5 separate regions of the Homo sapiens genome follow, and regions 1, 2, 3 and 4 are each linked to region 5. Evidence: fine-mapped expression QTL. A gene starts in region 5. Each other region holds a variant in brackets. All regions are shown on one strand. Distances are from middle to middle. Region 1 overlaps ADAM23 (ADAM metallopeptidase domain 23). Region 2 overlaps ADAM23 (ADAM metallopeptidase domain 23). Region 3 overlaps ADAM23 (ADAM metallopeptidase domain 23). Region 4 overlaps ADAM23 (ADAM metallopeptidase domain 23). Region 5 holds the start of ADAM23 (ADAM metallopeptidase domain 23).

The links. PIP is the estimated chance that this variant, and not a neighbour inherited with it, causes the effect.
Region 1: its variant is the best candidate, but not a certain one, in a credible set for the expression of ADAM23 in esophagus mucosa (GTEx, PIP 0.81).
Region 2: its variant is the best candidate, but not a certain one, in a credible set for the expression of ADAM23 in tibial artery (GTEx, PIP 0.68).
Region 3: its variant is the best candidate, but not a certain one, in a credible set for the expression of ADAM23 in whole blood (TOPMed, PIP 0.61).
Region 4: its variant is the best candidate, but not a certain one, in a credible set for the expression of ADAM23 in skeletal muscle (GTEx, PIP 0.51).

The regions. Positions count from the first base shown.
Region 1 is chr2:206,490,426-206,496,497 of GRCh38, forward strand. The region is part of intron 3 of ADAM23 (ADAM metallopeptidase domain 23); the gene reads left to right. Among named protein-coding and RNA genes, the nearest start is that of ADAM23, 50 kb to the left of the region's middle. The variant C/CG (reference allele first, on the strand shown) is at 2,969.
Region 2 is chr2:206,597,046-206,603,117 of GRCh38, forward strand. The region is part of intron 24 of ADAM23 (ADAM metallopeptidase domain 23); the gene reads left to right. Among named protein-coding and RNA genes, the nearest start is that of FAM237A, 42 kb to the right of the region's middle. The variant G/A (reference allele first, on the strand shown) is at 3,021.
Region 3 is chr2:206,525,730-206,531,801 of GRCh38, forward strand. ADAM23 (ADAM metallopeptidase domain 23) reads left to right here. Exons shown (of 26, transcript NM_003812.4): 4 at 5,156-5,219. Among named protein-coding and RNA genes, the nearest start is that of ADAM23, 85 kb to the left of the region's middle. The variant A/G (reference allele first, on the strand shown) is at 3,417.
Region 4 is chr2:206,609,625-206,615,696 of GRCh38, forward strand. It overlaps ADAM23 (ADAM metallopeptidase domain 23), which reads left to right. Exons shown (of 26, transcript NM_003812.4): 25 at 286-376. Among named protein-coding and RNA genes, the nearest start is that of FAM237A, 30 kb to the right of the region's middle. RefSeq lists an enhancer at 4,960-6,072. The variant G/A (reference allele first, on the strand shown) is at 3,158.
Region 5 is chr2:206,440,562-206,446,633 of GRCh38, forward strand. ADAM23 (ADAM metallopeptidase domain 23) reads left to right here and starts at 2,971. Exons shown (of 26, transcript NM_003812.4): 1 at 2,971-3,519; 2 at 4,746-4,963. The coding sequence starts at 3,306. RefSeq lists a silencer at 3,416-3,545.

The DNA.
Region 1 (6,072 bases), 50 kb after region 5:
CCTTATACTATGATTTTCAAGTGCTGTTTTGAGAAATTGTGGTTTCTTTTGCATTTAGGTACTTTAGGATGATTGGAACTGTTTTGGTAGTTTTGAAAAAGTGTGTGATGATAAAGAATCTTAAGAGGCAGGTATCCCCAAAGTTGCTGTAAATATTGATTGCCACTGTGCTGTGTGCAATATGATGTAGTCAAATATTGCATTGTATATGTCCTAGAGGCCTGATAGTATTCTAAGCTTTCTAGTGCTGGTAGGAATGAGTTGCTATGGATTTTTCTCTCCTGAAGCCACCCTTTCCTGTCTGCTTCTAAACTTTTTAATTCTAGAGTGCCAGGTAACTCTTTTTGTTGCCATATTTTCTCTGATCAGGGTGATCAGACATTTCTGGTCTGAGTCAACCCATATTGAATGCCTTGGGTATTATCATTTGCTTTTGATGACTCATCTTTATGCTGGTAGATCAGGTCCAGAAAATCTTGAAAACATATACAATAAAAGAAATATTGTCTAAATTTTAGTAGATTCTGGTTCTATTTACTTAGGGTGTCTATGCAACCTACTTTCAAAATGGTTTGAGAATGACTTGCACAATTAAACATAACAAGATTATTAAAAATAAAATCACAACCAAACCATTGATACTTATATACTGATTCTTGATTTTCATAGATGAACAAAATCCAGCATAACTCTTGGGTGGTGAAATTCAATGGATGTTTGCCCTCTGCCTGCCCCTACCCCTGCTTGCCTATTAACAATAATTATTGTGAGTGACTGGGACCCAGGGAGATTAAGCACCAGGCTAGAGAAATGAGGAGGGCCACAGGAGCCAGATTTAGATTTTCTAGGTTCTGGGAGATGAGAAAACTGGGATTGCCCAGAAAAGAGGACCCTGTGGCTACAGTCTTTAGCAGGAGAATAAAAAGTATGGCAACTAAGAATTTGTAGCAAAATCAAAAGAATTTAATTGTTGATGGGATCATATTACACTGTTTATCTTACCTAGGATATAAAAGACATCTCTAGTGAGTCAGGAGACTATTTCTTGACTGGTGGATAAAAGGAGACCCTTTGCGGGTATCCACCCCAATGCAGAATGTGGGCAAATAAAATCTGAACTTGACTCATTTTTTCAGAGCACTTCTTGGTCTTTTGAAGACAAAGACAAATAATGTATAAAAATTCCAGCAGAAGTTAATTGTGACAAAAAATTGAAAAGCACAGAGAATTAGATGTGACCAAGCATCTGAGATAAGTTTATTACAGTAGTTACTGAAATGAGATCTTACCTTTTAGTGGGTTGTGTAATTTTCATTATCTGATACAAGAATTTTATCTCTCTAGAGATATAAATGTTTCCTTGTCAAAGAGGAATTATCCCTTGACGCCTGATGTAGTAGGGCATTCAATAGCATAATGGTTAATGTGTGCAACCATTATTTTTCTTAAATGGGTTTCTCATATTGACCCTCTGTGTTAGCCAAGTGTATAAAGTTCTTTCTAACCTGAGTTGATGGATAGATTTCCATTGACAGAAGCCATTCATGAATGATTCCGAGCACTTTTATTTCACAAATGTTTATTGAGTGCCTGCTAAGTGCCAGGCACTGTCAAAGTTTGCCTGGAGAAGTCCTTCCCTCATGAAGCTTATAGAACAATGGAGGAGGAAAGACAAATCTGTAGGCATTTAATGACAATCTGAGAAGTACTGTGATGGGGAAAGTACAGGATGTTTTTATCCCACATAGGAGGGGTACCTAACCCAGATTAGAGGTAGAAATGGATAACAAGGTAAATGTTTATGGAGCTAAATGTCTCAACTCAGGCCTAAAGCATGTTTAAGAGGTGGTCAGAAAAGGCTTGAAGGGGGAGAGAGTGTGGAGGCCTGAAGGTAAGCAAGAAACTTGGGACATGGAGTGAGAGAAAATGGAGGCTTTGAGAGGTGAACAGAACCACACAGCTAGTAAGTAACAGCCAAGAACAGACCTAGGAATGCCCATTGTCAAAGCCTTGGAGAGTTGAGACATTATCTAATTCGTTTGTGCTGCTATAACAAAATGCCATGGACTGGGCAATATTTATATATTGTTTATACAATAGAAATTTACTTCTGATGGTTCTGGAGGCTGGGAAATCCAAGACCAAGCCTTGATATCTGGTGAGGGATCTCTGCTTGCAAGATTGTGCCTTGTTGCTGTGTCCTCACGTGGCAGAAGAGCCATATGGAAGGGCCAGGCAATTCTCCCAAAGCCTTTATTGTAAGGGCATTAATCTCATTGATCATCTCATTAATCTCATTAATCTCATTGATAAAGGCAAAGCTCTCATGGCCTAATCACCCTGAAAAGACCCCACCTCTTCATAGGTGGGGTTTAAATTTCCACATGAATTTTGGAGGGACCTATACATTCAAACCATAGCAGACGTTTTCAGTGATAAAGAAGTCTGACTAAAAATGTGTTTGAAAAGCTCTACAAATGTGAACCTTAGAGAAATAAAAAACTTTATATCATTTGTGTCTTAACCTTGCTTTATTTTGAATACTACTATTCATTGCATAAATCTAGTCCCAAACAATAACTTATTAAATTTTCCTCTTGGTTCTCCATAGATTTATATAAAGTAAGGGCTTGACATCACATGAACTGGCTCATTAAGACTCTTGATGGTCATCTGTTGCCAGTGAGAATTGTGTTGTTTTAGAACCATTTTTTGGATGATTCATACACTAGAATCTCATCATCTAGAGTCATTTCTCCTAATCTTTTAAAATTAATTATAAATTAGAATCCCCAAATAAGAATCCTAACTATGGTTTATTATGGGCTATTTATAAAAGTACTCTCTTTAACAAGTTTGTTCTAATGCTTCTTCCATGATGATATCCATGAGCCTTAATATAATATTTAGATTGTGTTTAAAAACAAAATAATCTATACTGGCTTTTTATTTATTTATTTTTTTGAGA[C/CG]GGAGTTTCGCTCTTGTCACCCAGGCTGGAGTGCAGTGGCGCGATCTCGGCTCACTGCAACCTCTACCTCCCAGGTTCAAGCAATTCTCCTACCTCAGCCTCCCAGGTAGCTGGGATTACAGGCATCCGCCACCACGCCCAGCTAATTTTTGTATTTTTAGTAGAGACAGTGTTTTGCCATGTTGGCCAGGCTGGTCTCGAACTCCCGACCTCAGGTGATCCACCTGCCTCGGCCTCCCAAGTGCTGGGATTACAGGCGTGAGCCACCACACCTAGCCTATATTGGCTTTTTAAATGAAACAATTTCTACAAAAAGTTTCACGTCCTTTAATATAATTACAAATATATTTTTCCATTTTACAGGAATATCTTTCAAATAAGAAGGTGGAAATCTCTAATACATTGTAGAGAGCACATTTCATTTCTTCCTCCTTTCTTTTTTGCCCAAGTGAGTTCACACATCCAATAAATCAGACTAAACTACATGTGACCAGAAGGATCTCACAGCATAAGAATAGATTATATCTCTTGTAAATCTCCAGGATTTCTTGTTTTTCTTGAATGTCCCCCTCTCATCTTTATTGAAGATAATGGACAGATAAAAATTATGCATATTTAAGGTATACAAGGTGATGTTTTAATTTTTGTATACATTGTGAAATGATCACCACGCTCAAGCTAATTAACATATCCATCACCTCAGATGGTTATCTTTTTTCTGTTTTTGTGCTGAGACTATGTAAGATCTCCTTTTGCAAATTTCAATTATACAATACAGTATAATTAATTATAGTCACCATACTGCACATTACATCCACTGAACTTACTGATTCTGCAAAATGGAAACTGAAACCCTTTGACCAACCAAGGGATTCTTAGAAACTTACTAGTGTCTGAGGCTCTCCCTTATTACTGTTCATATTTATTCATTAAGGACTGAGCTAATACTTGACCCTAAAAAAATGTTTGCTCTTTAAAGCTGTTCAGTGGTAAAGGGTTTCTTTATATGATTGCTAGCATTTGCCCTCCCTGTGCACTATGCCAGCTCATAGGGAAACAAGAATAAGATGCAGTTCGTTTAAGGAGCCCACAGTTTAGGGTGGGATCAGGGAAAGCTATACAGAGGAGGAGATGGTTGAGCTGTTTTGAAGGATGACTAATTTGAGGGTGAGTAGTTCAGTACTTTTGGGTGTGGTGAGGGACAATAACTTTTTGAGCATCCATTTATTTTAGCTGGCCATTCAGTGGTTGATATCAAATGTTTACTGGATAAATGGAAGTGATGGATTGTTGATACAGCTTAGCTATTTTGCATCTTTTTTCCCACTAGTATCTCAACCTGACACAGCTTTAACAGCCAGAAGTTTTATAAGCTGCAAAAATGAGTACTACTGATATTTTAGCTGAGGTTAAAAATGTACATGTGAAAACCATGGCACGAGAACTATGTGACGAATGCACAAGCCTCAGTAACCAATGCTATCAACTGGAAGAAAGGGTATCAGCGATGGAAGACAAAATGAATGAAATGAAGCGTGAAGAGAAGTTTAGATAAAAAAAGAATAAAAAGAAACGAACAAAGCCTCCAAGAAATATGGGACTATGTGAAAAGACCAAATCTACGTCTAATTGGTGTACCTGAAAGTGACGGGGAGAATGGAACCAAGTTGGAAAACACTCTGCAGGATATTATCCAGGAGAACTTCCCCAATCTAGCAAGGCAGGCCAACATTCAAATTCAGGAAAAATAGAGAACGCCACAAAGATACTCCTCGAGAAGAGCAACTCCAAGACACATAATTGTCAGATTTCACCAAAGTTGAAATGAAGGAAAAAATGTTAAGGGCAGCCAGAGAGAAAGGTCAGGTTACCCACAAAGGGAAGCCCATCAGACTAACAGCTGATCTCTCGGCAGAAACTCTACAAGCCAGAAGAGAGTGGGGGCCAATATTCAACATTCTTAAAGAAAAGAATTTTCAACCCAGAATTTCATATCCAGCCAAACTAAGCTTCATAAGTGAAGGAGAAATAAAATCCTTTACAGACAAGCAAATGCTGAGAGATTTCGTCACCACCAGGCCTGCCCTAAAAGAGCTCCTGAAGGAAGCACTAAACATGGAAAGGAACAACCGGTACCAGCCACTGCAAAAACATGCCAAATTGTAAAGACCATCAAGGCTAGGAAGAAACTGCATCAACTAATGAGCAAAATAACCAGCTAACATCATAATGACAGGATCAAATTCACACATAACAATACTAACCTTAAATATAAATGGGCTAAATGCTCCAATTAAAAGGCACAGACTGGCAAATTGGGTAAAGAGTCAAGACCCATCAGTGTGCTATGTTCAGGAAACCCATCTCATGTGCAGAGACACACATAGGCTCAAAATAAAGGGATGGAGGAAGATCTACCAAGCCAATGGAAAACAAAAAAAGGCAGGGGTTGCAATCCTAGTCTCGGATTAAACAGACTTTAAACCAACAAAGATCAAAAGAGACAAAGAAGGCCATTATGTAATGGTAAAGGGATCAATTCAACAAGAAGAACTAACTATCCTAAATATATATGCACCCAATACAGGAGCACCCAGATTCATAAAGCAAGTCCTTAGTGACCTACAAAGAGACTTAGACTCCCACACAATAATAATGGGAGACTTAAACACCCCACTGTCAATATTAGACAGATCAATGAGATAGAAAGTTAACAAGGATATCCAGGAATTGAACTCAGCTCTGCACCAAGCAGACCTAATAGACATCTACAGAACTCTACACCCCAAATCAACAGAATATACATTCTTTTCAGCACCACACCACACCTATTCCAAAATTGACCACATAGTTGGAAGTAAAACACTCCTCAGCAAATATAAAAGAACAGAAATTATAACAGACTGTCTCTCAGACCACAGTGCAATCAAACTAGAACTCAGGATTAAGAAACTCACTCAAAACCGCTCAACTACATGGAAACTGAACAACCTGCTCCTGAATAACTACTGGGTACATAACGAAATGAAGGCAGAAATAAAGATGTTCTTTGAAACCAACGAGAACAAAGACACAAAAAACCAGAATCTCTGGGACACATTCAA
Region 2 (6,072 bases), 160 kb after region 5:
TGTAGAGACAAGGTGTCACTATGTTGTCCAGGCTGGTCTTGAACTCCTGGCCTCAAGTGATCCTCCCGCCTTGGCCTCTCAAAGTTCTGGGATTATAGGTGTGAACCACTGCACCCGCCCCTCTTACATCATCTTTTTTTTTTTTTTTTTTTGAGACAGAGTCCGACTCTGTCGACCAGGCTGGAGTGCAGCGGTGTGATCTTGGCTCATCGTAACCTCTGCTGCCTGGGTTCAAGAGATTCTCCTGCCTCAGCCTCCTGAGTAGCTGGGATTACAGGCACCTGCCACTGCGCCTGGCTAATTTTTGTATTTTTAGTGGAGATGGGGTTTCATCATCTTGGCCAGGCTGGTCTTGAACTCATGACCTCATAATCCACCCACCTTGGCTGGGATTACAGGTGTGAGCTACCGCGCCTGGCCTCTTACATCATCTTATAATGTAGTCTGTGTTATCAGGAGTATGGTAATCATTTTTCATTATTCTCCCGATTCTCAACCCCTCATACAATTTTCAAAGATCTAGAAAACCCATCAGTCACAAACAGGCCTACTACAGCATCTGTTACATTGTACCTAAGAAACCAAGGAAATACTAGAACCAGTTTTTATATACAGGGATGACGTTGTACATCAGCTTCTTTATCATGGTACTGCTAACAGTTTTTTTGTAACTGCCGTGCTTTTCTCTGACAGGTAGGAAAATGCATATAGGATTAGTACCATTTAGATCAGCTTAGTTTTGGATGAAAGTTTATTGAAACTCTCTGAACTTCAGTATAGTTTATATGGGAAAAGATGATTTCAGATGCAGATGAAGCTCTGTAGTCCTCAATTCCTGAAGAGATTTAGGCTGATTCAGGCGCATGTGAATTGTTCAGTAATAGTGGGTGTGTTAAAACACATTTTATGCATTTGCTTAATATGCCCATGATATTAAAATTCTGTAAGAATCATAATCACACCCTCACAGTCTATTTCTGTTCTCCTTCTTCTATTTCTAAAAGGGAACGTATTCCACTTTTACACTTAGTCTTTTGTTACTTTAAAACTAGAACAAAAAATTCTTGGATCCACCTTCTGAAGTTAGATTTAGAGAAGATTTAAGCTCTAACAAGAGAAGCCAAGGTTCATTCTTTCCAAATTTTCTCTCCACAGTGTTTCTGTGATTTTTTTTTTAAGATCTAGATGCTATTTCCTCAAGTGATGTATAAAGATGCCTCAACGGATGAGCAGAGCTAAATTTACTTAGACTCTGCCTTTTTTTCTTTAAGTAGAGTAGGGGGTTATTAATTGTCTGGTTCTGTAATATCTATTCCCTGTTCCTTCACCCACCCATGCCTAAAAATCTTTGGAGGCATTAAGTAAAGAAAGTCACATTCTAGAGAAAGAGTACTCACAGCTGCCTTTTGTTTTGTTTTGCTTTACTCTCTCCATTTAATGTGGTAGTATCCCACACTACCTTTAAAAAAAAATAACTTTTTTGATCCTTCAAGTAATACATACTTATTGTAGAAAAATTTGAAAATACGGAAAATATTAAAACTCAGAGGTGCTCAAGATAAGCCTTATTGGGCCTGGCTCAGTGGTTCGCGCCTGTAATCCCAAGACTTTGGGAGGCCGAGGGCAGGTGGATCATCTGAGGTCAGGAGTTCGAGACCAGCCTGGCCAACATGGTGAAACCCCATCCCTACTAAAAATACAAAAATTAGCCAGACACGATGGCACATGCCTATAATCCCAGCTACTTGGGAGGCTGAGGCACGAGAATTGCTTGAACCCAGGAGACAGAGGTTGCAGTGAGCCAAGATCGTGCCACTGTACTCCAGCCTGGGTGATAGAGTGAGACACTGAGCCCCCTACTCATCCCCCAAAAAAGAGGCCAGGCACGGTGGCTTACACCTGTTATCCCAGCACTTTGGGAGGCCCAGGCAGGCGGATCACCTGGGGTCAGGAGTTTGAGACCAGCCTGGCCAACATGGTGAAAACCCATCTCTACTAAAAATACAAAAATTAGCCGGGCATGGTGGTGCGTGCCTGTAGTACCAGATACTGGGGAGGCTGAGGTAGGAGAATCGCTTGAACCCAGGAGGTGGAGGTTACAGTGAGCCGAGATCGTGCCATTGTACTCCAGCCTGGGTAACAGAGCGAGATTCCATCTCAAAAAAAAAAAAAAAAAGAGATAAGCATTCTGGTATGCTTCTTTCCTGTTGCATTTTTCTTTTTCCATTTTTAATGAAGACAATGGAGTCATTGCAAAGTTATCTATTGGTTCTAAAATTATTAAAAACCTTATGAATCTCTAATAATTTTGATTAAATTGAAAATGTCATTAAATGAAATAAATGACCTAGTTATTTTTATAAATATTTACATTTCCAGAAAATTCAAGCAATTTTAGTACAAGTAAATAATAGCTTTTATCTGTAATAGCTATCTATATCTTTTTAACCTCTATTTAAAAAATCTATTAATATACTGGTAAAACAGAAACTAAAAAATTTTAAAACTCTGTTGTAGATTTTATTATTTTGTTTTTGATTGTCAGGTTAAAAGAAGATTCCAAGTGAGAAATTATGTGCTTTTCGTTTTATTCAGTTAGCAAATATTTATTGACTGTCTACTATTTAAAAGATAGCGTATGCTTGGCACACAGACACTCCATAAATATTACACTCTTCTCTTTTGAAATATGCAAAGGAAATGAGATGGTGCATGCTAGTGCCACTTTTCAGTTTATCCATATTCATTTGTTTTGTTGCCTTGCCGACGAGTAATAGGTAATGGACTCAAGTTATTAAAACAATCAGTGTTTTACTTACTGTAGGCTCAGCAGTGTGTGAGACACTAAGATTTTTCTCAAAAAATGCATGTTGTGGCCGGGCACGGTGGCTCACGCCTGTAATCCCAGCACTTTGGGAGGCCAAGGCGGGCGGATCACAAGGTCAGGAGATCGAGACCATCCTGGCTAACACAGTGAAGCCTCGTCTCTACTAAAAATACAAAAAAATTAGTTGGGCGTG[G/A]TGGCAGGCACCTGTAGTCCCAGCTACTCGGGAGGCTGAGGCAGGAGAATGGCGTGAACCTGGGAGGCAGAGCTTGCAGTGAGCTGAGATCGCGACACTGCACTCCAACCTGGGCAACAGAGTGAGACACTGTCTCAGGAAAAAAAACCAAAAACTGCATGTTGTATCTTTTTTCTCATGATCCAACTGGTTTGGTTGGCACCTGCCTGATTGAGCACAGTGTTTGGGCCCTCCCCAAATGCTTGCCATTTATAATGGGCACCACCCACAGTGGCCAATCATATCCATAGATGAAGGTTTTCTGTATAGGTGCAGTAAGAGTATTAAAAATACTTAGTTTTATTTAATTTCAATGTGCTTCCATTATATAGAGAAAAAAATTCAAGAAACATAATGAAAATATGGCCTTTTTAAAAATCATGAACATGGGCATAAAAGATAAATTGTACCCAACTGCCCTTTGGATCAAGACCAAATTAGTAAAAATGAAGGCGAATTCTATGACTCCGTCTTCACTGATTTGAGAATGTCAGAAATGAACTGATGTGTTTTGTGTATTTCTTTTATTTTAACTATAAGTTCCTGGAAGAATAGGAAATTCAACCTCTCCTGTGTGAGGACTGAAAGCATACCTGAAAGCATTGCCACTGTAGTCACCCTGTACTTACTACAGTTGTCCACTATGGACCCATAATTTAAGGCATGCTAGATTATTCACGCCAACTTCTCAAACCAAACTATTGAAAGACAAGAAATAAGATCTCAAAGCACAAACCATGTGAGCAAGGATTTTTTAAAAAAGATTTTTGTCACATTATTTATTTTTTCTACGTTGTTCATTTCACATGCAAAAACCCTTTCTTAAGTTTATTTTTAATTTTTTATATTTTTTAAGCCTAGTCCTTCTCTCAACTTGTTTCCACTGAAATCATTATAGAAAATTATTTTGCTTTGTTCTACAAGGACAGAATGTATTTTAACTCTGTTTAAAAGACCTAGAATTCTCTCCTGTTACAGGGAGACCCACATCAAGTACCCCAATTATTGTCTGTATGTAGACACATTCTCAAGGTGCTTACTATAGAATACAGTGGAACTTTTCTCATTTGATAGTTTACATCACCATTGTAAGAAGGAAGAGAAACTGGGACATAGGTAATGTTTTCAGTGATATGTATGGGCAGATATTCCTGGGAAGCTTTGGTCAGACCTTTTCATCACAACCACACTCATCAAATCAGAAATGAAAAGGGCCTTAGAAAGAATTCAGTCTAGACCCCTTGTTTTACAAATGAAGAAACTAAGTTAGTTTTCAGGGTTAACAAAGAGTGAGAGGCAGAGCCAATAATATAACATAATCACCTTATCTTGAGCCAAATGCTTTTTTCTGTTATTCCATACTCCTGTTTTGAAGTTGAATAGTGAGGCTAGGCACAGTGGCTCACGCCTGTGATCCCAACACTTTAGGAAGCTGAGGTGGGCAAATTGCCTGAGCCCAGGAGTTCCAGACCAGCCTGAGCAACATGGAAAAACCCCGTCTATATAAAAAAATAAAAAAATTAGCCAGTTGTGGTGGCATGTGCCCATAGTCCCAGCTACTTGGGAGGCTGAAGTGGGAGGATCACCTAATCCCATGAGGCAGAGGTTGCAGTGAGCCAAGATCACACCACTGCACTCCAGCCTGAGCAAGAGAGTAAGACCCTTCTCAAAAAAAAAAAAAAAAAGCTGAATATTAAGTTATTCTGCTAGTTCTCATAGCACAATAGTAAACAGAAAGTGAAACAATAACCAGGTAGTAATCAAGCTTATTAACTGATCCATTATTGTCAGTGATGCTTTTTATGGAATTAGATAAGAAAGGAAGTATTATATTATTATCATTTAGTATTTTTAAAATAATAGTTTTGAAGTCTTATTTTCTGAGGTATTAACCTTGAGGAGTATTTAGTGTTTACATTTACCTTTTGCAATATATCCTTTTGGTGACTGTCTTCGTCAGTGCACAAATCTTTGATTTTATAGTTTAGATGATTAGATATGAGAAGTTATCCTTATCATATATGATTATGCTCATGTATAATTATGTGCTACCTGGATATTTTTCTCAAATAACAATGGCCTTATCAATAACCCAAGGATATATCAAGTTTAAAAATTTTTTAATAACTGAATTTATTTTGTTTCAGTTCAGAAAAACCCTATTTTCATTGACAGCATAAACTGAAATATATTCTTACATGAAATCATTTATTTTGCATCCTTTTAGACATTTGTCCATGTATCTAAAAATGAACTTGTTTTTTTCTTTTATGGAAAACAGTAAGGAGATCTGATTGTATGTATAATGTATTGAAATATGGAGCTACATACCAATATTATACACTAGTATATAAAGAGTTTATTTAGTATTTACTTTTCTTGTCTTGAATGGTAGTGGAATAATAAATCCCTGAAGAAAGCACTTTGGTCCATGGAATACAAATGATGACTTTGATGCCTCCTGCCTGTGAAGTATCAAAAGATACAGGATTTTAACCCCCTTTGGAATCACTTGGGGGAAATAATGCATCTTCTTATTTGAGAAACTCTCTAAAAATAAGGAAAAAAACCCACTCAATTTCAAAACAGCACATTTTCAAAATGTCTGAAGCATGACATGTCTATAAAGGAATTCTACATATAAAATAGAAAATCTTAAGAAAAGGAGAAAATTTATAGTTTTTGATATTTTATACTTACCAAAAATTCTGTCTTTTAGCACAAGTAAACCTAGGTAGCAGGGACCAAGACTGAAAATAATAATAAACCAACAAGTAATGGAAATAAGCAAGTAAACAAAAATGAAAACATTCTGCTAGGTAATAAACAGATTCCACAAACACATTATACTGAAAAGTAAGTGTATCAAAGAGTTAGGGAGCAAAGTTAAGTTCCTAATAAAAGGATTGTGTTGTCAGCTAGAAGCTTTAAGCGTTCCATCTCCAGGTTTGGTAGGATGAGAAGGAAAATAAGATATATCATCGTGTGTCCAGCATAGTTCCTTGAACAAAAA
Region 3 (6,072 bases), 85 kb after region 5:
TACAGACGCTCACCACCACACCTGGCTAATTTTTGTATTTTTAGTACAGATGGGGTTTCAGCATGTTGGCCAGGCTGGTCTCAAACTCCTGACCCTGTGATCCGCCTGCCTCAGTCTCCCAAAATGCTGAGATTATAGGCATGAGCCACCGCGTCTGGCTGGTTCTTTGTTTAAAGTAAGGGGTTCAAGTTATTTTCCAAAAAAACTGGATCTACTCTTCTTGGTTAATAGCTTTCCTAGATACTAGGGAATCTTGGTACCTAACTTTTCCAATTATTAGAATCCTTGGCTTCTCCATATGGAACTTCCTTGTAATGGAAGATATAAACTTTTGGGAGTTTTGACCACATGGCTGTTTATGTGTCTACTTACATTAGAAACATGAATCTCATATTCAAGGATTCCAACAAATACACACACACACACACACACACACACACACACACACACAGACACACACAGACACACGTCTATACACATACATATAAAACTTTCCTGAGGTAAATCTCTTTTTGTGAATTTCCAATTCCTAAATATAATAGCAGCTCTGCTTGTATAGTTGCTGATGATTGTGAAATTCTTTGAACATAGATTTCTAAAAGATATTTGTGATAAATCCTGAAATTAGGACAGTTTAGACAATGTTTCAGTGACAAACATGAAATCTGAGACTTCAGCACTGTAAAATGTTATCTCTTCCCCACACTGCGATATAGTGCAAGTTGAGTAGCTCTTTTAGACAGTTCTTCTCCAAATCATGATGAAAGGGTCTAGGCTGCATTCATATTTCTGTTATGCCATCTGGAGCATGTGGCTTCCAGGGTTGCCATGGAAGAGAGGGCTTAGATAATCCTGCAGGGATTTTAGTGGTCACACTAGAGGGGCAGACATCACTTCCTTCATGTCTCATTAGCCATGATCCATTGTCTTGGCCCTAACCTAACTGCAGCAGAACCTGCAAAATGTGGTCTTATCAGGATGCCAGGAAGGGGAAAATGAAATAGCATTTGGTGGACACACAGCATTATTTCTGCCACAGTTCCCTTCATTGACCTGATTCTTGGCTCATTTGTCATGTTTCAATAGTTTTATATTCTCCTGCTCTTACATGTTCTTCATATTTTGAGTAAAATCATATTTAGTCTCATTCTAGAGTTCCTAGAGTTTTCACCACTTTAGTGGTGCAGATTCACCATGAAGGGCAGAGTGAGTGGGTTCAAGAGTTTCCTTGTTCTAGTTCTTCCACTTTCTTTCACTGGCTTGAACTTCCATCCTACGTTTATTCATTTACTTATAAAGGTCACTCCTCTTTCAACAGATAACCTGCATGAGAAGCATGGGAGTAGCCAGAGAATACAGCTTTTCTGTAGCTTCAGTGATTGAAAAAAGATGTTTATTTTAGAATTTAGGATGTTCAGAGTTTGCCCACAAGTTGTTAGCATCTTCAGAACCAAACATCCAATTGGCTGATCAACAAAGTAAAATGCCAGTTTATATTTGGGTCCGCAATTGCTAAATAGATGAGTATTAGCATTTCAGAACATTCTGTTTCCAACAGGAAATTGTATTAGGACTACAGAAAGCAGAGGTGGAGGAAAGGACAACTCATCTTCAGGCATGTGGAGACATAGATTACCGGTTCCTTCCTGGCTGGGTGGGGCTGGAGACACCACTGCACAATCAACTATTCCCTTCTCCCTTTTTAGTGTTTCTTGTCCATCATCAAAAATTACATTTCACTATTATTTCAAGACTTTTATAATTAATTAGGTTACATTTCAGTTGATGTAATTCACTCTCAAGGAGATTACAAAATAATATTTTTGAGTGAGGTGATCAATCTTGCACATTTGTGCTGATTTTGCTTAGTTTCAATTTGAAAGTTGCATTTTTCACCCTGTTTCCAAGCCCCTATAGCAGGTGTTGGTAGATGTTTGCTCACTCAGCAGATATTGATTAAGGGCCTACTATGCATTAGGCATTATGCCAGGTGCTAGGGATACTGTGATGAGTGGAATAATTAGTTTCAAGGGAGGCTGGCTGTGGTCAGACAGAAGGAAAGAATGGAGTAAATGGGGATGTGTGCTATTTACAGGAAGTAGAAGAGTGGACTGGCATGGTGAGGAGGGGCATATGGTGGTGTATTTCTCTCAGTATTTGCCATAGACCTCCTGAAAAGTAGCTGTTTTTCTTCTTTAAGATTCTAAAATGCCAGAGATACTAGAAACAGGTATGTTCATGAGAAGAAGAGACCCTTAAAAAGAGGGAAATAGGATAATTAAAGTGACCTTTATGAGATTTGGGAATTCATGGTTAGAATGCCCTTGTAATTACAGGCAAAATTAAGATAACGTTGTTTCCAACTCTTAGATGTGCTCCAATGATTGTGTGGTTGAAAATGTTGAAAATAGTAAATTACCTGTAGAGAGACACAGTTGGAATGTAGTTAGGGAGACCTCTCTGCCTCCTGGTGTTGCAGAAGCTTTCTGCAGAAGAATGATACCATCACCAGCTTCATCTATGTATATCATAGTGCTGGTAGCCAACTTAATTAACTAGCAGTGAAATAAGTTTCTGCACCCTGTGAGATATTCCCCATGTATACAGAGTTCAGTAATTGTCATTACTTTTACTATCTGAGATTTTTAAAAAGGAATGAGTAGACATACCACAATTTAGTTTCAAGTGTAGAATTATCCTTCAGTACACATTTGGTTTGTGATTTTAATGGGAAACATGTCTAAAGTTTAAGCATTGGCTTCCTTTCTGTGTTGGAAAGGTTGTCCTTCATCACACACAGGACATACGCAGGACATACCCAGGAGGCCCCCAGTTACTCTGTTGACTGGTGCTCAACACCCCTTTCCAGCCCTCTTCACTGGATTATTTTTAGAATGCATCAGATGCAGCTCTCAAAATGATGCAAAATCATTGAGTCCTCCCATTTTTCAGCTAAAGAAGTAGTGTCACGGTTTCCTAACAAGAAAACCTACTATGAGGCAAAATTATAGAAAATCAGAATAGCAGAATAGGGCATGAGCTGAGGAATCTTCTGCTTTAGCCCTTCATTTTTGCATAAGAAGAAATAAAGACCCAAGTTTAGAGCATACAGCTGGCTTAGAGTGGGACCTACTCTTGTCCTTCAGTTCCCATTAGGATTAAATGAGTTAATACCATTATAGTCCTTATAACAGTACCTGTGCCATAGTAAGTGGTCAGCAAATGCGAGTTATCACTTGTCATTATTCCTAGTGATAGAGCCCAAACAGGAACCTAGATGCCCTAATAATCCAGTGCTCTTCAGGAGGCACATATTTTGTATTTCCACATTGTATAGGGAGAAATATGTTTTAAGAAGTTGAGTTAAAATAAAAATAGTGACTGCCACAATGCCAATTAATGTGTACCTAATCAGC[A/G]TACTCAGTACTCTGTACTGAATAAGTACTAGGCTAAGAAATGCAGTACTTAGCCTAGTACTGCATAGTCTGAGTTAAATACTGCATATTCATGGTTTCCTTTAATCCTCACAATGTTCTATGAGATTCACATCCTTGACCATCTCCATTTGACATACAAGTTGGGGAACTTGCCTATTTAAAAAATAGGTTTTAAACACTATTTGACTTCAATGACTTTCTTAACCTTTGTTATTTATTTATTTATTTTAAATTTCTTTTTCTTTCTTTTGAGACAGGGTCTCACTCTGTCACCCAGGCTAGAGTGCAGTGGTGCAATCGTAGCTCACTGCAGCCTCGATCTTCTGGGCTCAAGCAATCCTTCCACCTCAGGCTCCCTAGTAGTTGGGACCACAGGTGCATGCCACCACACCTGGCTAATGTTTTAAATATTTTGGAAATGGGGGTCTTGCTATGTTGCCAGGCTGGTTCTCAAACTCCTGGCCTCAAACAATTCTTTGCCTTGGCCTTCCAAAGCTGAGATTACAAGTGTGAGCCACTGTGCCTGACCCCTTACCCTTCCTTTTATCCCAGGAATTGGCAAACTATTGCACACAAGCAATCTCTGGCCATTCTTAACTTGTACAGTCTGCAAGTTAAGAATGTTTATATGTGTGTGTGTGTGTATATATACATTTTTTTTTTGAGATGGAGTCTCACTCTGTCTCTCAGGATGGAGTGCAGTGGCATGATCTCGGCTCACTGCAACCTCCGCCTCCTGAGTTCAAGCGATTCTTCTGCCTCAGCCTCCTGTGTAGCTGCGATTACAGGTGCGTGCCACCACGCGCGGCTAATTTTTGTATTTTTGTAGAGATGGGGTTTCACCATATTAGCCAGGATGGTCTTGATCTCTTGACCTCGTGATCCACCCGCCTCAGCCTCCCAGAGTGCTGGGATTACAGGCATGAGTCACCATGCCCGGCTTTGTTTTATGTATTTTTTAATGGTTGAAAAAAATCAAAAGAAGGATAATATTCCATAACACATAAAAATTATGTGAAATTCCAATTTCAGTGTCCATACAGTTTTATTGGAATACAGCCATGCTCATTTGTTTACATACTGCCCGTGGCTGCTTTTGCAATATAATGGCTGAGCTGAGTAGTTGTAGTGGAGCCCGCATGGCCCACAAAACCTAAAATATCTACTCCCTGGCCTTTATAGAAAACCCTTGCTGACCTTTGCTTTATACTCTTCCTTGGTGATTACATTTTATGACATTCCAACTGTTTAGGGCATAATTGTGGAATTTTTATAGGATCTGTCTCCTCAAGTTACTTGCCTTTTGGTTTGTTCTGTATTAATTAACATATCAATCAGATCCTGAATAATGTGAATAAAAAGAGTTCACCGTCCGGGAGGCGGAGCTTGCAGTGAGCCGAGATCGCACTACTGCACTCCAGCCTGGGCGACAGGGCGAGACTCAGTCTCAAAAAGAAAAAAAAAAAAAAAAAGAGTTCACCGTTGGATTGTCTGTGTCTTGTCTTTTTTTTTTTTTTTTTTTTTTCTGCAGATTGGGGAGTAATTTATTCCTGGATACTGTGTGAAACTCGATGATAACCTGTTTTTGTTTCTGTACTAACCATGGACTGCAGCTATTTCTGGTTTGCATGCCCCTCACGTTCATTTATTGAGCCGATTGTTTTTAAACCTCCAAGTGTCTTAGATGCAGAAATCACTCTATTTTCTTTCCTTTGTAGTGGTTTGTTGTCTTCTGATTATGTGGAGATTCACTACGAAAATGGGAAACCACAGTACTCTAAGGTACGGTTACCGGCGTCGGCAAGTACTCTAGTATAAGTGTGCTTATCATAGAGTTGATCAGTGCACACTGCGTTGTTTTGACGTCTGTCTCAGTAAAATCACCTGTGCTCTTTTACAATGATACTATTTTTAGTGAGGAGAAATTTATTAAAATATACAAATGTTTGAGGTAACGTTAGGTATTCAGGACAAAAAATGTTTATTGTTTTGATTATACATGCAGTACCTTTTGTGATAGTATAAAGAGCTATACAGTTCCATATCAGCACCTGAAAGTAGTTAGTAAAGAAGGATGAGGCTCATGGCCATCGAATCTGGATTAGAAGACTGGATGGGCTGTTAGAACGGTTCTTTAGTGCAAATGATTTTGCTGCCCAAGAAGGGCAGAGGACAGGTGGGGGAAGTGAGATTTAGGTAGTACTTTTTCTCTAACCTTCATAACAATTCTATGAGGTGGATGTTATTATTCCTGCTGTACTATGGAAGAAATTAAGGCAGAGAGAGGGCAAATAAGCCTGCTTAAGGCCACGGGACATTGAATATGAGGGTACTTGGGTATCTGATTCCTTCATTTGGAGATGAACTTTCTTGTCTTCAGGGAGGATTAATAAAGAGCAAGTGGATTTGGATTAAAGCAAGAGAGAGAGAGAGATGATTTGTATGTAAGAAACAGTGACCTCCGTCAGTCAGGGTGAAGATCCCCAGAATGGCTACAGAAAGAAACTCTGACTTCTAGGGAATCAACAAGTGCCACTGAACCTGAGCAGTGTCCCAGTTACTGGGGACACCAGAAAGGAAACAAAGTGGGGAAACCTCACTGGATTTTTGTTTGTCTTTTTCCTAGATTGCTAAC
Region 4 (6,072 bases), 170 kb after region 5:
AAAGACAGCAAGTGGGGCCTATTTGCTTCAAATTCTGTGAAAGGTGAATTTAATGGAACTTAATTGTCAATGGTGCAGAAACTTTAGATTTAAAGGCATATAAATCCAAGCAACGCTCACCGTAGCATCTAAAATGCAATTAAGCTAAGTAAATAAAGGCAATTTAAATGTTTAGCCGTCTTTTACACAGGATATTTACTTCCTGAAACTGCTTAACTGCCTTTCCCTTGTGGTAACGAAAGTGGTTGGTTCATATGACTCTCTTCCCATGATCCTTTGTCACAGGTCCTAGTGCCACCAATCTCATAATAGGCTCCATCGCTGGTGCCATCCTGGTAGCAGCTATTGTCCTTGGGGGCACAGGCTGGGGATTTAAGTAAGCAACGCCGCATGTCTTCTTCTCAGTGGCTCTGGCATTTCTCTTTTCTGCTTACATAACCAAGTTTTGAGTTCCTGCTACAAGAGCTTAGGTTCTGTCAGTCAAACTGCAAAAAATAAGTCTTTTTATTCAGAAATGGGTTAGAAATGAAGAAACACGGACCCTCAACTGTCATTTTCAGGCAAGTGGAAATGTAGAAGGAATTCATATACACTGATTTTTAAGGAGAACAACGAAGTTCTTTGGTAGAAGACAGTCCAGCTTGTAAGAGCAGGCACTCTGAGATACATTCATTTCTACACAGGAAATCGAGGAAACCATGTAGTTGGAAATAAGTGGATGTAAATTGCTTGTATCTGTTTAAAACTTGTTTGTAGTCCACTGATATTTTGAAATTTTCACAACCTAAGTAATTATGCAATCATTACTTGTATTTTTCATATGTAACATAGTATATGTAGCTTTGTGATTTGAAAAGCTTTATAGTTTAATGAAAACAGATTTTAAAAGTATTTGTATAATCCTCGACCAACTGAATTGGTTTTAAATCAGAATTTGAAAAATGTGGCTTTGTGACACTTAGTATTTTCTAATCAAGGACTAAATATTGACCTGACAGGTAGGCCTGGTGTGTTTTCATAGTGACCTTTTAGTTTGGATTGCACACTGCTTACTGAACTAAGATTGTTTAAATAGACACACTGGGTATTCACAAATAAACTTCAATTGTGATCAAAATTTTTAAAGCTGATTTATCCAGGCTGGCTATTTCTACACTCCAGAATCATTGGATAATTGCTTTTTATACCTTTTCATGCTATAGTGAGTTGATGATTATGATTTGTAGGTAAGCCCTCCTGTGCCTCCTGTGATAAATTTTCAGCCAGATTCACAGAAACAAATTTAAGTGGGAAATAAGACCATTACCCAAATTCAAAACCCACTTTGCCTGCATCTGGTTACTCAAAAGAGGAAGCTTTTGCCCTGAACTATCTGAATAATTGCCTTAATTATAAACTTTATATGTTTTATATTTGGGATTTTGAATTCAATATGTTTCAGCCAGTTAAAGTGTTATTTTTAGAAGCTGATTAAAGAAACCAAAGATGATTTAAATACATTCAACATTTTCTGCTAATTTGTTATCATATTAAGATTTATTGAGTAAGTCTACAGTTTTGGAGTGCCTTTAACTTGAAATAGTATTATAAAATTATACGTCTTTTCTCTCGGTATATTTGTAGAGTTGAACTTGTTTAGTAATGTAGTCTTGGCATCAGTGTGTTTTCAAAAACACACTCATAAAATGGACAACTCATATTTAAATTTATTGTTTTGGTATTAATAAAATATTGCCCACATAGTGAGTCACGCATGTGGCATCTAGTAAGAAATATGTTTTCGTTTGGGCGGACCTAATTCAAGCAAAACTTTTCTTAGTGTTCCACTGCTACAAAAAAGTCATTGAACATTATAGTACTGCCATACTCTTATTATTTTATAATGCTTCCTTGAACTTTTTCATTAGTATGCCTCAAGAAAAATAAATCTGGATCATGCCCAGGCTTATGCCTCATTTGGCGTTAAGAAATCCCGGTTTCAAAGGCCTGGAAAACAGTCTATTACACGTCTTTGCCGTCTAGCCATATGCAATGCCAAATTTATCATTGCAGTGTTTCGAGAGAAGAGCACACTATTCTGTAGCAGGACCTCAAAACAGTGGCCTGGCCTAGCTCACAGCTTGAATTGCATGTTTCTTTGGGGAAAAATGGAAAAGCCTTTATCACTGTGTATATAAGTGGATTAGGCCCTGTAAAGATTCTTTATATCTGAGAGAGAGAGAGATCTCGTTATCACAAGAACAGAAAACAAAAGGTGGGGGATCAGCACTTAGTGAGATGAGAAACAGCCTTTGCTGACTGCTGCCTGGTTGTTGCTGTGTAGGGACCTGTACTGCTGAGCTGAGTCAAAGCCCCTTCCTGTGCCCTGTAACTCTGATAATCACTTTCAGGGAGAACTGTGTAGAAAGACACACAATAGGGTGAAGTATTTCATGCCCCGAAGCAAAGAAAACGATGAAGACTAAGAATAATTCCAGAACATGTAACTTCAGGAGTTTAAATTTGGAGAATGTGCTACTCCTGGGTGACTGTTGGTTGCTACATGAGGACCTTAATTTGCTTTAGATTTTAGTAGTAACTGTGTGGTTTGTGTTCAGCTTTAAATAACACTTCTACCTTGTAATAAAAGGCTTTTGGTGCTGAATGATAATGTTTAGATTTTCCCACCACTTGGACAGTTCTGGAGATTACTAGTCTGGAGATAATTCGTAAGTATAATTATTTGCTATTTGAACTGAAAGCCTTTGGGTTTGAGTTCAATGTAAATGTTTAAAAAGAAATTCCTTTAGAATCAGAAGTTGAAAATAGTTTGTACAAAAGATTGTTCTAAATGCTGCTATTGGGAATCCCTCCTGATACCAGGTTTTTATTTCTAGAAGAAAAGTTGGTAAGGTAACCTGAACAATTTGAGGGCATGTCAACTTTTTGATTAAAGGAAAATACAGTAACTACTCAGGGAAAATACTATATTTTCCTAATGTCACATTTCTTTAGGTGTACTAGTGAGTAGTTTAGATGTAGAAGTATCATACTATACGTGACCTGCCCAAGTATAAATGAGAAATACAGCTATGCTCTAAGCCCTGACCTTGTCTGCCATTCTTTAAAGTTCTTTCCTTAAACTATTATTTCCTCTGAAATAGGTGGTAAAAAGCAT[G/A]AAAATGTGTGCATGTATGTGAATGTGTGCACATTTGTGTGTGTGAAGTGATAATAAAGATGTATCAAGATTATTATAATCTGAAAATAATACTGATTTAAATTACATACTTCCTTTTAGTAGATTAGTTGAGTCAGACCGCTTTGGTTAATGCAAGCAAGACTTCCACAAGCAAGGTTGTGGATTTCCTGAAGAATTTTTAAATGTTTTATTTGGTAGATTTTTAAAAAATATTGTCACATATTGTGTAATGTTATGGGTAGTAACTTTGCTTAATTTCTTTTTCTTTTTTTTTGAGACAGAGTTTTGCTTTTATTGCCCAGGCTGGAGTGCAGTGGCATGATCTCAGTTCACCGCAACCTCCGCCTCCCAGGTTCAGGCGATTCTCCTGCCTCAGCCTCCTGAGCAGCTGGGATTACAGGCATGCGCCACCACGCCCAGCTAATTTTGTATTTTTAGCAGAGATGGGGTTTCTCCACGTTGGCCAGGCAGGTCTGGAACTTCCAACCTCAGGTGATCCGCCAGACTCGGCCTCCCAAAGTGTTGGGATTACAGGCATGAGCCACTGTGCCCAGCCAACTTTGCTTAATTTCATACTCCAGAAGTATGAGGTTACTAAGGGTATGATTAGTCGTAGAGTCCCAGGTATTGAGGGTCTTAGGAATTTCTCTATGAAATCCTGTGAAAAACGAACATAGGCATGTGGCACACCAATTTGCTCTACTTCTATATCTGCATTTATTTTCATTCACCCCATGCTCCTGTTCTTCCCCATCACCCACACACAAGAATAAAGTTATGAGCTGTGGTGCAGAGGATTGCAAACCTCTGTCCTAGTTGACTCATGGAGACTCATGACACCTACCCAACATTAAATGATGATACTGCTTGATTCGACTGTTAGAGCTGTTGCTTTTACTGGACATTAGAAAAAGCAGGACCATTTTAGTAGCATCTTCCCTAAAGCTTAGGAAAGGTGAAAAGTATATGAAAAGAGAATTTCATATCTCCATTTAAAAGTGAACAGGATTGTCTTCAGCACCTTAGGCGTTGCTATTTATCTGATATTCCCTAAATTTGAATGTAGGGTTTTACATGCACATTAGTAGGTGATGGTGGTAGGAAAAGAGAAATTCTAGGTGATGGTAGGAAAAGAAATGAAGGTAATAGTGACATGGTTTGTTGAAAATTGAAATCAAAAGGACTACAGGATGAACACTGAGCTTTTCCAGTGATACCGTAACACCTCAGTCTGTAGAACCTCATCACCACGTCTTACTCTCCCGCTACTTGCCCTGTCCATGGGATTCAGTGGCAAAGTGGATTTCATCAGTGGCCATACTGGCCTGGCATAGCTACTCCTTACATTAAAAGTGTTAATTTAATATTAATAAGTCTGTGTAATTATCATACGTGATTCCTTCTCTCTGAGAAGTTATTTGTGTTAAAAGCTCTTCTGAGCCTGACTCTGGATTTAAGAGATTCTGTCTGGCCTACGTTCCATTTTATTGGACATGTTAAAGAAAAGGCTGTTTATGTACTCACACAAAATGAAAAAGAGCTATATCTAGACTATTACCAGCAAAGTTAAGAGTTATCTGAAGCTGGGCATGGTGGCTCATGCCTGTAATCCCAGGCTGAGGTGGACAGATCGCCTGAGGACAGGAGTTCGAGACCAGACTGGCCAACATGGTGAAACCCTGTCTCTACTAAAAATACAAAAATTAACCGGGCATGGTGGTGCACGCCTGTAATCCCAGCTACTCGGGAGGCAGAGACAGAATCCCTTGAACCCGGGAGACGGAGGTTGCAGTGAGCCGAGACTGCGCCATTGCACTCCAGCCTGGGCAACAAGAACAAAACTCTGTCTCAAAAAAAAAAAGAGTTATCTGAATGTCAAGTCAGATAAAATTTGAAAGGAACTTAATATTGTTAATTATATTTTCTCAAAAGAGTAAACACCATTTTTTGTGGGGGCCTTTTGATTTTTATTGAATTAGGAAATTGAATTAAATTTGGCTAGTCTTTCCACGAGGAGGATAACCAGACTGCTGTTTTTTTGAATTCCATGACTGTATCCCAGTTCAAAATGAGAAGCCTGATTCCCTTAATGCCTGGGACTCCTGGGTTAGGCACTTTCTCTTTCATGGTACCAGGCTGGCCAGGAAGATCGGTGCATTTCCCTGCCCCAGCGCCCCAGGGAAGTGAGCTCAGTGTATGGTGGCCTAGGAGGGGTTGGGCTAGGGACACTTCGTCAGGGGGTGACTCAGCATAGAATGATAAGAATGTGCTAACCATGGATAAATATATGCCCTTGAAAGAAGAACTAAAGGCTTTACGGCTCTGAGACGGTTATTGTTACTGAAAGAGTCTTGCTTTAATTTTGTGTAGATGTTATGTGTATAATGTATATTGTAGACAAAAGTCCAGATTATTTCAGAAGTAGTAAAAATGGATGAAAGCTGTGAAAATGTAAGCTTTATGGATTATGCTAGTGTTTTATAATGATCCAGAAATACCTTACAGGTTATGAGAAAGTTAATTACCTTCAGAATCCTAGTGAGCGGAGGGTATTCAGAGGAAACCGTTATGAAGAAAGTCAGCAAGGACCTGCCCGCAGTAGTTGTACTTTCACATTAAAATTGAACTGAAAGAATATTTTTTTCATAGAGAAAATTCAGACCGTTCTCAACATACAGTGACTGTGATGGTTTTACAATTTATGTGTGAGGCACCTTCACAGTCCGCTTGCCACAGGAGTGTTCATCTCTGTCCTCATCGCAGTGTGGCCTCCCTTGTAGAGGAGCTCACTTTCCCCCTGCTGGGACATCAGTGGAAGAGCTAAGGTCCTGGAATGCCCCATTGGTGTTCAGAGTCCATTTTCATCCAGAAAGATACAGTTCTGCAGGATGGCT
Region 5 (6,072 bases):
CCATGGACCTTCTGGCCACCTGCCTTCACCTACGACTGCAGCATTTCTCCATGTCTGCCACTGTGACTAGATCACTCCAGTGATCCTCTGATGGCCTTAGGATCCAACACACATTGGTAACCAGGGCCATTATAGCACTCAAGCTTCTGGTATATTTCTTTATTCCAGTCCATCTTGCTGAATCCCTCTGTTTCCTACCTGTGAGTGCCCCTCTATGAATGCTGATTTGATTCCAGGTACTATACTAGGCTGTGGAGTCAGAGATGACCAAGATACAGCCTTGCTCTCAGTATTTTTTGATGGAAGAATGATGATATGCACATACACGAATACAGAGCAAAGCAGTAGGTGGCAAGTGATTAAGCAAGTCACTAAATCTTATGAAAGCACAGAGGGGAATATTTAGAAGTAAACTCTATAAAAATAAAAATTCTGAACTACCTAATAAGAATATTACTAACTCTACCAAGTTGACCAATTAAATTATTTAATCAGTTAATATTTGATTCTGTTTTTAACCTTCCCTTAAATATATGGCTTAAAGACTAAACTTCCAGTAAATTTTTTCTAAGTAATGTACTCTTTCTCTGACTCATTATTTCATTTATTGATATCTTATTTTGACTCTAGCAATGTCTGTAACCATTAAAGTTCTGTAAATAAATGCAGTCTTTTGACTATAGTACATAAGACAACATCCCTCTTTGTAAATACCCCAACCCCTTATTAGAAACTATATTGAGGCCAGGTGCGGTGGATCACGCCTGTAATCCCAGCACTTTGGGAAGCTGAGGTGGGTGGATCACCTGAGGTCAGGAGTTTGAGAACAGCCTGGCCAACATGGTGAAACCCCGTCTCTACTAAAACTACAAAAATTAGCCGGGTGTAGTGGCACGTGCCTGTAATCCCAGCTAATCCCAGCTACTTGGGAGGCTGAGGCAGGAGAATCGCTTGAACCTGGGAGGCAGAGGTTGCAGTGAGCTGAGATCGCACTACTGCATTCCAGCCTGGGTGACACAGCAAGACACCATCTCAAAAAAAAAAAAAAAAAAAGAAAAAAAGAAACTATATTGAATCCTCATTCCATACCCCAAGTGCATGAAATGATGTGTTGTAACTGGTGGGTGGGTTTGGTCAGTCCAGGTTGGCTGATAGGTTTATTTATCAGAACAGACTTTAAGAGGTTGTCACTGAATTGCAAGAGATGCCTTTCAAGTAACTTGCATCTGGGTGCTTTGCACCTTTCATTTCCCTCTCCCTTCTCATTGCTTGTACATCTCCTTTCTGGCTTGCTTTCTCTCAGGCCCTTTTTCAGGATGCATATTGTGTCAAATATAAATTTGGAAAACCTAGCCAGAGAATACTTGACTTGAGGGAGACAACCCTAAGAACATTGACCTGCAGTGGGCACTCCGGTGGGGCTAGAGTGTTCACTAGCCTGCCCCAAGTGTGACTTCTGCTTGTGTGTATCACCCATTTCTTTATTCATTTAGTACATATTTTCCAAGCGATTTCTCTGTGCCTCAGACACTGTGTGAGGTCCTAGGGACACAATGGTGTGCAGAAGGGAAAACTGTTGTTGCCCTCACATGGGGGAGGTAGCAACAATTACAAATTTACAGGAATAAATATGTGATAATAATATCCTAGCTCAACATAGAAAGGAAGTTATCTCAGTATTTACCTAACAGTTTTGTAATGTGTGTGTGCGCGCGCGTATATGTCTTCTTCTTTTCTCTTTGTTAAGTGTGAGTGGAGAAGATGATGGCTAACACTGAGTTCTGTCATGGCCATGGCACTTTTATACCCACATTCTTTCTTTTAATCATGGAATTCTCCACCCCAGCCCTCACCCCGTGGATGTCGGAGTAAGACAACATTGTTATCACTCAGATTGTCATTGGGAGGGTGAATAAATGAATGCTTGCATTATGAGAGTTTGGGGGCAGAAATATGCCACAGACTCTTATCTGAAGCCATCAGATTTAGTGGCTGCGAACCCACCGAAGTCAGGGATTTACATTTTTTACAGCAACGAGAGAAAACTTCCCCTTTCCTCTGCAGAAGTCAGGACTGGATCTCAAAAATAGAAATGTGTCCTCCTAAATGTGTGCCCATCCCCGTGGTTGACAAACAACGGATTTCCCAAGATAGCTGCCACACACTTGGTTTCTAATCTCTGTATTGCTTCCCCGCCAGAATGTCGAAGTCCTTCCCGAATATGCCCAGTCATACTTTCTGAACTTTTGAGCAAACACCGTCCGGCTTCTTGTGCTTTCCTCAAAGACCCCAGGCACCGGCAGGGAGGACACAGGCCGGGGCAGAGCGCCCCTGCGCGGGGGATTCCTGCCACTCCGCGCCAGCCTGCGGCGCAAACGCTCTTCTCAGCCGCAGTCCCACCCGCTGCTGGCAATCTGAATGAGGAGCCGCGCTATTTTTACCTCCCCGGCTGCAATCCTTTATATTTACATGCAGGAAGCAAATATATAAGGGATTAAGAAGGAGATGCGTGGCCTTAGTTTATCCAGAGCAGGAAGAGGTTGGAATAGGAGAGGGTATGTGAAGTCTGGGGTGGTGGAAAAGGCAGGTGGACTTCGGCTGGTTGTTTTCTCCCGATCATCCCTGTCTCTGGCCTGGAAACCCCCGTACTCTCTTTCTTCTGGCTTATCCGTGACTGCCGGCTCCCCCTCCACCGCCCCCATCTTTTGAGGTACCACCCGTCACCTCCGATGCTGCTTGGGCTGCTGCATCACTCTGCTGCTTTACCCCCTTCCCCGCCCCCCAACAAAGCATGCGCAGTGCGTTCCGGGCCAGGCAACAGCAGCAGCACAGCATCCAGCAACAGCATCAGCACCCGAAGCCCCGCTCGGGCGCGCTCTCGGGGGGCGGGGCGCACGCCCGCTCCGCGCGTCCCCGCGCCGCTCGCTCCCGCGCGTCCCCGCGCCGCTCGCTCCCGCGCGCCGCCTCAGCATCCTCAGGCCCGGCGGCAGCCCCCGCAGTCGCTGAAGCGGCCGCGCCCGCCGGGGGAGGGAGTAGCCGCTGGGGAGGCTCCAAGTTGGCGGAGCGGCGAGGACCCCTGGACTCCTCTGCGTCCCGCCCCGGGAGTGGCTGCGAGGCTAGGCGAGCCGGGAAAGGGGGCGCCGCCCAGCCCCGAGCCCCGCGCCCCGTGCCCCGAGCCCGGAGCCCCCTGCCCGCCGCGGCACCATGCGCGCCGAGCCGGCGTGACCGGCTCCGCCCGCGGCCGCCCCGCAGCTAGCCCGGCGCTCTCGCCGGCCACACGGAGCGGCGCCCGGGAGCTATGAGCCATGAAGCCGCCCGGCAGCAGCTCGCGGCAGCCGCCCCTGGCGGGCTGCAGCCTTGCCGGCGCTTCCTGCGGCCCCCAACGCGGCCCCGCCGGCTCGGTGCCTGCCAGCGCCCCGGCCCGCACGCCGCCCTGCCGCCTGCTTCTCGTCCTTCTCCTGCTGCCTCCGCTCGCCGCCTCGTCCCGGCCCCGCGCCTGGGGGGCTGCTGCGCCCAGCGGTGGGTATGGCCCCGTGCCCTTTGCGTTGGCTTTCCCGCGGGGCCCTGCAGAGGAAAGCGAAGGGCGCGCGGGTCCGTGTGCTCCGGGCTTGTCCCCGGCTCGGCCTTTCCTTCCCTCCCTGCCTGTCTTTCCACCCTTCTCGTTCCCAAACCCCCATTCATCCCAGTTCACTTTTGGAAGTCCATTTCTGTTGCATTCGCGAAAAACCCATTCCAATTCTTGTTGGTTCCACTGGGAGGTGTTTAGTGGATCCTGGGTCCCTCAGCGATCTCTGTGCAACTTGCGGAGGGGCAACCAGTGGATGGGAAATACAGCGAGGGAGCAAGTTGCTACTTGCGTGGTGGAACCTTAATGTGAATGCGGGGAGGATGTAGTGATAATAGTGGTAATGGGCTGTTTCCTCAAATTTCGTATCCGGCGCATTCAGTGCGGTTGGAATTAAGGTGGGGGAGGCACACTTCGGGGACCAAAGAATTAAGGTGCTGAAGACATACTTCATGCACGACCTTTGGTTCTGATTTCTCAAAGTGCTTGTCATTATAATGAACAATTAATATAATACCATCTTCTATATATTGATGATTGGAAGTCACTGAAAGCAGAAAGCTGGCTTTGTCAGGAAAATAAAAAGAAATTGGGAAGCTGCCAGCATCTGTATCCCTACATGGCAAAGTATGTTTGCTCATCTTAAAGTTAAAAGAGAAGGGAATTGTCCATTTTGTTAAAAGAGTCGATTAATATTCGGTATCCATAAATTCAGTACTCAAGTTATCTTAGGAGCGTTCTTAGCTCTTGGATGGGATGCCACTAGGCAGAGTAGAGTTGTGCTTCTGTGGACTCAGAGAAGGGGTGGAGATCGGGGGCAGGACCCCTGAACATGTTCATTTAATGACTCTTCTTCCCTCAAGTTCATTCTACCCCCCCCCCAACACTTAGAAGTATAGATTTGAGTCTGACTAGAAATGTATATATAAGACATAAATCAAAATAAATAGTGCACAGTTGTATAAGCCTTATTGGCTATTTATTAACTTCTCCAGGCCATTTTATTGTTGAAATAACTTGCTTTACTCTAGCTCTACTTCTTAACTGCTTATAAATAGAAAACTTTGTGTTTGAAATTAAAGGAAAAATGCATTTTAGTGCTTATGTATTTATGGGGTAAATATGTGTGTGTTTGTGTATGTTTGTATTTTCTGCTCCCCCACCCCCCTACCTCCACCAGCTCCGCATTGGAATGAAACTGCAGAAAAAAATTTGGGAGTCCTGGCAGATGAAGACAATACATTGCAACAGAATAGCAGCAGTAATATCAGTTACAGCAATGCAATGCAGAAAGAAATCACACTGCCTTCAAGACTCATATATTACATCAACCAAGACTCGGAAAGCCCTTATCACGTTCTTGACACAAAGGCAAGACACCAGCAAAAACATAATAAGGTAGGCAGGAGGCTGGCTATGCAAAAGTAACTATCATGAAGAGTTTTCCTTTGATTTGATTTTCTGCCAGAATCTGAGTTCACAAATTTTACTGCAGCATTTTATTAAGAAAGCAATTAATATTATGATAGGGGAGAAACTGGAAGGAATTAACTTGGGATCTACTGGGATAAGACTGTTGTTTCTCTTCTCTGACTAAACTGGAACTAGAATTTTCTGATACCTGAAATGATATCCATGTATCTTTCAGGTACATTGGGCACTGAACAGTAGTTAAGTGAATGTGTTTATGATTCTAACTTGTTTCTGTGAGGCTTTATGTAAGGGTGCAGTATTCTGCCTTGATATAAAACTGTCTCCCATGATATAAAAACTGCTTTCAATCTGCACATGCAAGATTGCTTCAAGAAGCTATTTGGCTGCAGTGTCTCCATCAGTCTTTCCACTTAGAAATTGAGTGTTTAAACAGTCTGTTTCTTTAATTGATCAGTAGGAGGAAAAAAAAATTTTCTGTTGTATTTTCAATAGGTAAACAATTTGACATTTAAAAAGATTATGGTGACTAGACACAAATTATTTGCATAATATGAAGACCAATTTTGATTGGCATAATTCTTCAGTACCTACTCTGCATTGATTATGAGCAGTTGCTTTACTTTCAGGTTAGTTCAGAAAGTGGAACTGATATTTACCAAGGTATCAGTAGAAGACAAATGTTTAATATCCAAAGAGTTTAAGGGATCTTTTTCCCTGTGTTACTATTCTTTACTTGAATTAATATTATTTTGAACCCCGAGCAGATTTAAACAATGGATTATCGGTTCTTCTGTTGTTTATCGGGAGCAGAAAATAGAGTCTGTATGTTAAATGTTTCATTTTGATCTGTACTTGTTCAGGTGAGAACAACAGTTAGCAATTAACTGTCTAAACATCTAGAATTTAAGAAAGTATCTGCAGTTTACATCATTGTTTTTTATTAGTTTTCTAAAATATAGGTGAGTGGTAACAGTATTTATCCCCATTTTACAAATGGGGAGCTAGAAATTTAAGGCTTTTGGGTGATTTTCCTATGTTGTAAAGCAGCTAATATAAAATTCAGGTGACCTGAA